Linked DNA regions of Homo sapiens: region 1 is linked to region 2. Evidence: fine-mapped expression QTL. A gene starts in region 2. The other region holds a variant in brackets. All regions are shown on one strand. Distances are between the middles of the regions.

The links. PIP is the estimated chance that this variant, and not a neighbour inherited with it, causes the effect.
Region 1: its variant is the best candidate, but not a certain one, in a credible set for the expression of CCDC91 in whole blood (TOPMed, PIP 0.62).

Annotation. Positions count from the first base shown.
Region 1 is chr12:28,144,808-28,150,188 of GRCh38, reverse strand. No RefSeq gene overlaps it. Among named protein-coding and RNA genes, the nearest start is that of CCDC91, 43 kb to the left of the region's middle. The variant T/C (reference allele first, on the strand shown) is at 2,775.
Region 2 is chr12:28,188,231-28,193,611 of GRCh38, reverse strand. CCDC91 (coiled-coil domain containing 91) reads right to left here and starts at 3,156. Exons shown (of 13, transcript NM_018318.5): 1 at 2,971-3,156. LOC729291 (a long non-coding RNA gene) reads left to right here and starts at 2,874. Exons shown (of 1, transcript NR_148936.1): 1 at 2,874-5,381. RefSeq lists silencers at 1,702-1,996, 2,680-3,109, 3,140-3,189.

The DNA.
Region 1 (5,381 bases), 43 kb after region 2:
ATTCACAATAGCCAAGATATGGAAACAACCTAAATGTCCATTGACAGACAAATGGATAAAGAAAATGTGGCAGGTGTGAGTGTGTGTGTGGCACACACTCATATGGAATATTATTAAGAATAAGATCCTGCCATTTGCCACAACATGAATAGACCTGGGGACATTATACTAAGTGAAATAAGCCAAACACAGAATATTGCATGATCTTACTTAAATGTGGAATTAAAGAAAAAAAATAGCCCAGATACACGGAAATGGAGAATGAAACAGTGGTTACCACTGTGGGGTTGCAGGGAGAGGAAATGGAGAAACATAAGTCAAAGAATACAAAATAGCAGATATGAAGGATAGAGAGGCTTAGAGATCTAATGTACAGGGATAAAGTTAATACAAATTTGTATTGGATTGGATTTCTGTTAAATAAGTAGATTTTAGCTGCTCTTGTCACAAAAAGATAACGATGTGAGATGATCGATATGCTAACCTGCTTCACTACAGTAACCATTTTACTATCTACATGTATCACATAACAACATGAAAAACTCAAATATACACAGTAAAATTTATTGTTAAAAAAGAAGGAATTGCTACTACCAGGCTAAGATCTTCTGAAAAAAATTGTCTCTCTAACATACATGCAGCATTATCTTTAATTTCTCAGAAAGAAATGAATAGGAAAGTAGGAGAAAGGGATTTAGAGTGCGTAAAAAGAAGCTGACTGGCATTTCTTGCAGCTTACTTAATGATAATCAGCCTATTGTCAAGAAAGATAAATCATGTAGTGAAAAGAGAAGTGCATCAAGAATTCTCCCATATAACCTTGACCTATAGAATAGTGTGTTTCGGATGGGGAGTGGAGGCAAAATGGGAGTAGCGTTTCTGATAACACAAAGTGGGAGTAGCTTTTCTAATGGACACATTTTAGAATATCTGCTTAATATCCGCTTGGCCTACAATGATCCCTTTAACTATTTCTGCTTCCAGCTACAGAGATATATGCCTGGAAGCCATGTTAGGCAATGTGATTGTACTTTTGGACCACAGCTGACTGTATTCTGAGAGGATATTCAATCCAAACTGGAAGGCACCTTTGCAAAATCATGACAGTAAGAAAAATGTGACATAGCTGACTCTATCTTGCGTCTAACCTCCGAGCAGACCTTGTTCATTCCTGGGTGTAGGCCAAGGTAACTTCAGGAGGAATTCAGTTTATAGTTTAACCTTACAGCAAGGAAGATAATAGCCCTTCCCAAAAACTGCTCCCTCCTTGCTTGGGTATTGAAATCACATTTGTAAAACTAACGAATTAGTCACAAGATTAGAAATTATGGTTCAAGAGTCATGTAGCCAGAGGTCACAAGCATTATAACCTCCCAATTGTACCTATAGATAACATCACTATTTTAAAACCTAAGGTTAGTGTCACAGGTATTTTTCAGACCCTGCTTTCTGATGCACCTGCTAGTGCCACCTGGACCCGTAAACTGGCTCAATCGGTCTTGTGATCCCACCCAGGAACTGAAGACTGCAAGAAAACAGCTTTGATCTGTTGTAATTTCATCACCAGCCTGACCAATTAACATTCCCCATTCCCTAGCCCCCTGCCTGCCAAATTATTCTTAAAATAACCCTAGTTTCCGAATTTTCAGGGAGACTGATTTGAGTAATCAACTCCCGTATTGCACATGGTTTAGCCCTGCATTAATTAAACTCTTGCGTTATAGCAATACCACTGTCTCAGTGAACCAGCTGTACCTGTGCAGCCGGCAAGAAGCATCCATTAGGCTTACAAACTGAACCACTGTGTTTCCCTCAGGGGTTTGGAACTGTGGTTGGAGAGAAAGAGATTCAGTATTCTATGCTTAGGGCATATTTAATGTTGTAGCATATAAAGTAGGGCTATATTCTACCTTTTTGACTAAGACATAGAGGAAGCAGGATTGAAGAAACACAGAAGAATGAAGGAGAAATGAGAAATGAGAGAGAATCTGCCTGGTTTCAAGACAGCCTTCCTGTTGCCAGTTCCAGTCATTCTGCTTTTAGTTACAAGCAAAAAGCAGCCTTAGTCTTCAAGATTCTTCTCTGTCTTCAAACTCTGTAAAGATATACATTCAGGTTTTCTCATCTGTAAAATAGAGGCTGGGAGTGGGAAAAGTAGATAACAGAGTACTTCATTTGTGGGACTCAAAAAACCATGTAGTCAGACAAAACTGTTTGCAAAAGCTGTACTGTCTGGAATAGAAGGCAGAATTCAACATAATGACACACACCTTACTTTCCACCTAAGGTGATAATATAGAGTTCAGAAAAAGAGTTTTTTAGAGCTGTGAAGCTGGCTAAGGTAATGTCTGAAATAGGTTTTAAATTTCCCAAATGTGAGAACCATATGGATTCGAATCACTTTATGCATTGCATTTTTTCTACATATGTAAGGAAACAGAGAGAGGCTCAGGTATGTTAGTACATAATTGTCATTAGATTACCTCTAACACTTTCGACTTTGTACAAAGTAAGTGCATGTTGAATAGCTTTAAAAATTAATGCTTGAGGCTGGGCACGGTGGCTCATGCCTGTAATCCCAGCACTTTGGGAGGCCAAGGTGGGCAGATCACCTGAGGTCAGGAGTTCAAGACCAGCCTGGCCAACATGGCGAAACACCATCTCTACTAAAAATAAAAAAATTAGCCAGGCACGGTGGTGGGCTCCTGTAACCCCAGCTACTCAGGAGGCTGAGGCAGGGAGAATCGCTTGAACCCGGAAGGCAGAGGTTGCAG[T/C]GAGCCGATATCGCACCATTGCACTCCAGCCTGGGTGACAGAGTGAGACTCTATCTCAAAAAAAAAAAAAAAAAAAAGAAAAAGAAAAAAGAATTAATGCTTGATCCATCAAATAAACTTAGTAAAGAGAAAATAATAAAAAATACTATGATATATGGTTACACTGTTACACATTTTGCTGAGCAGATTTCATTTCACTGAGTGATTTTCCTTTCTTTCTAGTTGTTGGCTTCAGTCCACATACTCTTCTGTGTAAATAGAATAGAATCTTATTGTAGGGCAAAAGGCTATTAACATAGAGGTCGGTCTGCTATAGATCAAACTGTGCTCCTGGAAACATAACTATAGATGAGAAAAACCTAAGATGAAAAAATTATTCTTAAAAGCAGATGTTTGTAGCAGTCTCCCAAATCAGAGCACCTCTATGGAATAGAGCCTTTTTCCTTTATTTTAGAGAAAAATGTTTCCTTTCTTAAAAACAAAGAAAGAGAAGAAGGAGGAGGAGGAAGAGGAGGGGGGAGAAGGAGGAAAAGAAGAAAGGAGGAGGAGGAGAAGAAGAAAGAAGGAGGAGGAGGAGGAGATCTCCTTCTCCTTTTATTCATACTCAAACTTCTTGAAAAAAGTAACCCACCCTGATGTTGTTACTCCCTCCCTTCCTTTTTCGCTCTTGAATCCATTGCAGTCTGACTTCTCCCTGCTTTGCTCCCAAAACGTTGTTCTTGTGATGGCTTCCAAAGACTCTGTAGCTTTAAAATCTGATGAGCACTTTTCAGTTATTATCTCAACCTATTTTACAAAAAAATTTAAAATATTTACCAAGCGCCATTTGAAATGTTTGCCTTTATATGGCAATTACTTAATCTTCTACTTCTATTTGCTCCATCTTCTCCTTCCTTAGTTTCTTTTTCTACATTAGTTTCTTTTACACTCTGAATTTTCTCCAAGATAAGATTTTGTCCTTACACTTGTTTTTTCTCCCCTTCCTTCCTTCCTCTTTCTTCCTTCTTCTTTTCTTTCTTTCTCTCTTTTTCTTTCTTTCTTTCTTTCTTTCTTTCTTTCTTTCTTTCTTTCTTTCAGTGGGGTCATGTTTTGTCACCCAGGCTGAAATATGATTCCTGAGCTCAATGATCCCCCTGCCTCAGCCTCCTGGGTAGCTAAGACTACATTAGTCCACTTTCATACTGCTATGAAGAAATACCCGACTCTGGGTAATTTATAAAGAAAAAGACGTTTAATTGACTCACAATTCCACATGGCTGGGGAGGCCTCACAATCATGGTGGAAGGTGAAGGAGAAGCAAAGGCACAACTTACATGGCTGCAGGCAAGAGAGTGTGTGCAGGGGAACTGCCCTATATAAAACCATCAGATCTCATGAGACTTACTCACTGTCACCAGAACAGCATGGGAAAAACCTGCCCCCATGATTCAATTACCTCCCACCAGGTCCTACCACAACATGTGGGGATTATGGGAGCTACAATTCAAGATGAGATTTGGGTGGGAACACAGCCAAACCATATCACCTGGCTTCTTAATTTTTTTTTTTTTTTTTTTTTGTAGAGACAGGGTCTCACTATTTCACCCAGACTAGTCTCGAACTCCTGGCTTCCAGAGATCCTCCTGCTTCAAGCTCCCAAAGTGCCGGGACTTGCACTTGTTGTTTTCTTCTATACACTCTCCCAGGGTAATCTCACCGACTCCTATAATATCAAGTACCATGTATTTATGACTCTCAACTTTTTATCTTCAGTATAAACCCCTCTCTTGAACTTCAGACTTGCTAGGCTCCTAATAGATATCCTGCTAAATCTATCACAAATGCCTTAAACTTAACATATCCAAAATTAAATTCTCTTTTATCATCTTTCCAGTCCAACTTCCTTTCATTTAATTATATCTTAGTGTCCAAGTTAGAAACTTCGGGATCACTTCCTCTTCCTTACTCACGTATCCAATCAGTCATTCAGTCTCAGCGACTCTATGGATATACATGGAATCCACTCCAGCACCACTGCTTCTGTCTCGCTTCCAAGCCTCATCATTTCCTGCCTGTTCTGCTGCAGTAGCCTCCTACCAGTTCTCATTGCTGGCAGGCTCTCCTACCTTTTTTTCCTCTTGAATCTGTAGCCTACATTTTTGCTTCTGGTACTTAAAGCACAAAACTATGTTTCTTCTCTGTTTAACACCTTTCAGTGACTTAGAACACCCGTAAGAAAAAACATCACCTCCTTTCCTTGATGAACATAAACAGCCCTTCCTGATTTGGCTCCTTCTCGCCCCATTAATTTTATCTCCCTGATTTGCCTTACTGCCTTACTGAACCACTACCTAGGTTCAGCCTCGACTGTCTTCTTGCAAACATGCCATGCTAGTTCACATTTCAATGTTGCTCGACAGGCTGGTGCATTTGCCTGAAAGGTTTTCCCCTCTTGTGCACCTGGCAAATTCCTGCTCAGTCTTTGAAGATTCCATAAACATCACCCCTTATGTGCATCTTCTTATGATCATTCTCGTAAATGAGCATGGAGGTGCAATGTCTCCATTAGCATTTTTCTCATTATGTGGTAGTTTATAACATGAGGGGGACTCAATCAATCCTAGAGGC
Region 2 (5,381 bases):
TTTTTTGTTTTTGAGACGGAGTTTCACTCTGTCACCAGTCTGGAGTGCAGTGGCACGATCTTAGCTCACTGTAACCTCCGACTCCCTGGTTCAAGCAGTTCTCCTGCCTCAGCCTCCTGAGTAGCTGGGATTACAGGCACCCGCAACCACGCCCAGCTAATTTTTGTATTTTTAGTAGAGACGGAGTTTCACCATGTTGACCAGGATGGTCTCAATCTCCTGACCTCGTGAGCTGCCCACCTCGGCCTCCCAAAGTGCTGGGATTACAAGTCTGAGCCACTGCGCCCAGCTGGTAATTTCTTTTAAGGTTAAACATGCACTTGCACACGGCCCAAGAATTCCATTCCTAGATGTGTAACCAAAAGAAATGAAAACATATGTCTACACAAAGACTTGCACCTTAATGTACAAAGAACAGCACATGAATGTTTACAGTACCTTCATTCCTAAATGCCAAAAATTGTTCATCAAATGGCGAATAAACATACTATGATATATTCACACAATGAAATACTACTCAGCTGTAAAAAACAACCAAGCATCAACAAACATGCATCAACATGGATGAATCAAAGCATTAAGTGAAAGAAACCTGAAACATAAGGCTACATACTGTATGATTCCATTTACATAACATACCAGAAAAGACAAAGCTATAGACAGGGACAGAGAACAGATCAGTGGTTGCTAGGACCTATGAGTGAGGGGAGGAAACTTTAGAATGATGGGAATATTATTTGTCTGGATTGTGGCAGTGGTTCCATTATATGCATTTGTCAGACTTTATACAGCAATATAATAAAAATTACTTTTTTACTTATAAATCATACCTCAATAAAACTTGATTTTTTTTAAAAAAAGCAACATATGCCCTTTTTAAAAATATGCATCAGTTTAAATGAGCTAAACCAAACTTACTGGGTATGGGAATAGGGCAGGGAGGAACAGTAAGGAGACCAAAAATCCTTAAAATACTGGAAATCTAAAATATTAATTTATCGTTAGTAAATAAGAAACAGATATACATAAACACCAAGAGTTAATCCAAAGAGAGATGCCTTTTTCAATTAAGTTCTCATTGTTTGGACAGAAAATAAGAAAATTTGATAAACTTTCAAGGAAGATTAAAAATCACAAGGAACAGGTTGACAAAGGAGTGCTGTAATTATGACCTACAGTTTGGGAACAACTTATCTAAAACATTCCCCTTCCATTTTACTTAATGGAACCAGTCTTATCCACCCATCCACTCTACTCCACTCCCACTCCGTCTTCTACTATCTTCATTCATAACAATCATATGTAATGCATACATCTGACACATATAGATAAGAGTACAACATAAAATGCCTATTACACCAAATTCCTGTTTGTCCATTTAAGCTCCAGACAAGCTCATTTTTAAACGTCTTTTTTCTCTATTTTAATGCCACCCAAAACCAAAGTGATGTCCCTCTGGAATGATTTTCTGCAGTTTCTTTTGTGTGTTATTAAGTACTAAGATGATCAAAATAAACAAAAATGTCTCAGAAGTTTTGAGTGGATCACTCCAATAAGAAGCTACATTTTTCCATTTAATAAAAGTTAAGAGGTAAGTTGTAACTTTCATCACTTTGTTTTCTTTATGTTTATTCCATTGGGCTTATACTGTTGCTAGGAAACCAGTTCATAAGATTTCCCAGCCCACAGAACACCCTCCTAGGCAGCCTGGAGGATACCAAACTTCGTAACCAGGGCAATTCTCTACCACACAGTTTACTGGTTAGCCAACACCATGCAGGTGCACTCTGCCTGGCATGACCCTTACTACATTTACCTAATAGGTACAGACAGTATAACCAATCCCCTCAACGCAATAGAAATTGTAGCAGAGGGCAATCAGGTGATCATTAAGTGTAGAACTCTCCGACAGCAGGGAACACAACAGCGAATTTGTTGTCAGTCCCTGTCACCCCACCCAACTAAATATTGTGGGGGGGGGAAGGGTTGCCTTAAATTGTGAAGTAAAATGTCAGCCCACTCCAATAACTCCACCACGCAACATGCAAACTGCTTCCAAAAACCATCATCCAACTCCCACCCGGATTAATATTTGGAGAGAAAGGTGGCATCAGTATCCGCACAGCTGAGAGGGGAGGGAAGGAAAGAGTCAGAATTCATAAGGGGCCGCTGAGTCACCTAAAATTGTGGCCAAGACTTTACCCTCCAGGAAATCGAGCTCTGCCCCAACTCTCATCAAGGAAGCAAGTGAGAGTAGCAGCAGCAACATCATCCTACCAAAAAAACACCAGCGCAGCTTTTAATAGAGTTCCACTCCTTAAAGTGAAGCCAAAAATAGGTTTCATGTCCAAAGCTTTCCTCCGCAGTAGGCGACACGCGCAGATGGAGAAAATATCTTTATTGTTGGGAAAGGGAGGCGTGCTAACGGGGACGAAGGATACCTCACCACTTGGCAAAGTTACTGGCTCCTGCCTTGACCCTGAAATGCCACTTTTATTGCAACATGTGGCCCAAGAAACTCTAAGGAAATGTGGCTGGCAGACGCTGTAGAGCTTTTACCCCAATGTACTTGGCAAAGTAAAAGGGGATACATAAACCAGGCGCGTTCTGTGTAATCTAAGCAAGAATCAAGGTCTCCGTTCGGTAGGCGCTTCGGTGACACAATAATCACGTGTTCGTGGGCGTAGACTTTCGAAAACACTCGATTCTGGGACGTGCAGATACCGGTACCCACCGGCGAGCGCAGGAACGAGTGGGCACTCCCACCCCCGGGAGCTGGCTCCGTTCCCGCAGGAGGTTGGTCACGCCCCCTGACTCCTGGTCGCTGCGACAGCCAAGGGCGAGGCCGCAGCAGGCGGGCTGCAGGCGGCGGAAGCTCGTCCGCGCTCCTCCCCCGGTGGGGCGCTCTCCGCTCGCCTCGCGCGGCCCCGACCCCAAGACCCAGGCCCCGGAAGGCGAGCGTTCACTTACCTGCTCCCCTCTCTCGCTCTCCGCTGCCGCCGCTGCGCCGCTCACCCACGCTGCCCGGTGAGCCACCCCCAGCACACAGACCCCTACGCGTACACCCGAGGCACGGCCCCAGGCCCTTGAGGGGAGACCGCGGCCCAGCCACACAGGTTGGGGTAGCCCACGCACCACCCGGCTTCGAACACCTCTGCCCCCGGAAGTTGATTTCCGCCAAGGCCCGCCCAACACAGCGCCCGTCACTCAACGTAAACACGCGCGTCACGTGGCCCCAGGCCGAGGCCCGGGTCGGGGCCCCATGTTCAGAGCCCTGCCACCCCAGCTTGAGCGTGGTCTTTGGAGCGTTGCCCTGTGAAAAGGGGTGACTTTGCCATGCTCCTTCCCAGTCTACCTCCTGTTAGTTACAGTTTCTCATTCCTCTTGAGTAGCAGGCCCTGTTTCTCCACCTAATCCCTGCAAGTAAACCGTCCCCCAAATCAAAATGAGTTCCATCTGGAACTTTGTAGGATTGGTCCTAAGAAGATCCCGCCGAATCTCTTCACCACTTCCTAGCAGAGCACAGTAAAACCGGGGACTAAGCAAAGTGGCTGACATGTAGTAAGTGCTCAAGAAATGGATGTTGACTAGATGCTACCTCTCATCTTTGCCTGTCTGAACTCTCAAGCACCGGATGCAAGTAGACTGAGAGCCTCCGCCAACCAGTAAGATGACTTTGGTCAAAGAATTCTGCTCTAGAGTTACTTTTGTTCTTGTCTTCAACTCCAGATCACAGCAATTCATACGTGCCATCTCTGTTGCAGAGTTTTCTTGCAAAGCCTTTCTTAAAAGCTTTCTGTCAAATAGCTTGTCCTGAAGCAATAGGAAAAGAATAGCGTAATTCACAGATTATTTATTTGAAAGGAAGGAATGATTATATAGATGTCTTTGTCCATTTCAGACTGTCAATAGCGATGAGAGAAACAGTCAACTAGCAGTCCACTCGTGAATGTTTCTTCTGTTTTTGCCATGGAAGGATTTTGAAGAACATTCATTCAACAAATTTTTATTGATTGTATACCACATACCTAGTCCTGGGCCAAGTTTTGACAATTCAAGAGTGAGCAAGGTAACACTCAAGATATTTGTCTTCAAGAAGCTTACAGTCTAGTGAGAAAGAAAGACACTAACCTGGGGACTTTGAGCATAAATCTCTGGAATATTCACATTCCTTGTATAACAAGTATTCTTTCATCCTTGGACACTGGGTTTCTCATCTGTTGAACAAAATTGGCTTAAACCTGTAATCTCTGTTCTGTACTGGAAGTGGAAAATATTAGCAAGGCATCCTGACAAGTCTGCCATAAGTGCTGGCCTAAGTAGTTAATGAGCAGTTTCAGTATTGAGCAAGTCACCTTGACTACATTCTTTTTCCAGCCCACCCCCTTCTTTATGCATACAAAAAACATTTCTATTGTAAGAAATGTAATGCTTTCTTACACATATTTTTTTATCTGTCTACTAGACTACCAAGTCAAGGACCACTTCTCACTTGTATATCCAGCAATCTACTCACTTCTCATTTGTCTTTGTGTATCCAGCAGTCTAGCAAAGTGTCTAGTAGTTAGAAAAAAGGTATTCATAAATATTTCTTAAACTTAGTAAGGTTACCTTTATATTATTTTGTCTCTCATATCTCTTTCTGCTGGAAACCAGATTAGTTTCTGGGAGTTCCTTCCCATTGATGTACTTACATGTTCACTCTGTCCCGATATTCAATACTAAACTGTATTCCATACTAAACAGATTTATAATAAGTAACTAATATTTATTATTAATATTTGCTATGTGCCTGGCATTAGATTAAATATTTTAAATCCCATATATAACTTACCACAATAATTTTACAAAGTAGGTATATTAATATATTTACACTTTAGATGAGGTTACAGATTTAGGAAGTGTAAATTGACCAAGTGGATTTAAAGCCAGATCTGCCCAACAGAAGGGCTTGTTTATTCACTATAGCACATCACTTTGCTTTTTATATCACTTATTTATCAGTGAATTCAAATCCTACCAACTCCATGAAATCTTTCTTCCTTCCCCACAGTAATCTTTTTCTTTATAAACAATTCAGTGATTTTAGTATATTCACAGAGTTATGCATGCTTTACCACATTCGATTTTAGAGTATTTTCACAGCCCCAAAAAGAAACCCCATACCCTTTGGCCCCAACTTCTCCCTCCTCTCCCCAGCCCTAGGCAACCAGTAATCCACTTTCCGTCTGTATGCATTTGTCTATCTTGAACATTTCATATAAATGGAATCATGCAATGTGTGGTCTTTTGTGACTGGCTTCTTTCACTTAACATGTTTTCAAAGTCCCTTCATCGGTTGGGTTGTTTCAGCTTTTTGAATATTATGAATAATGCTCCTG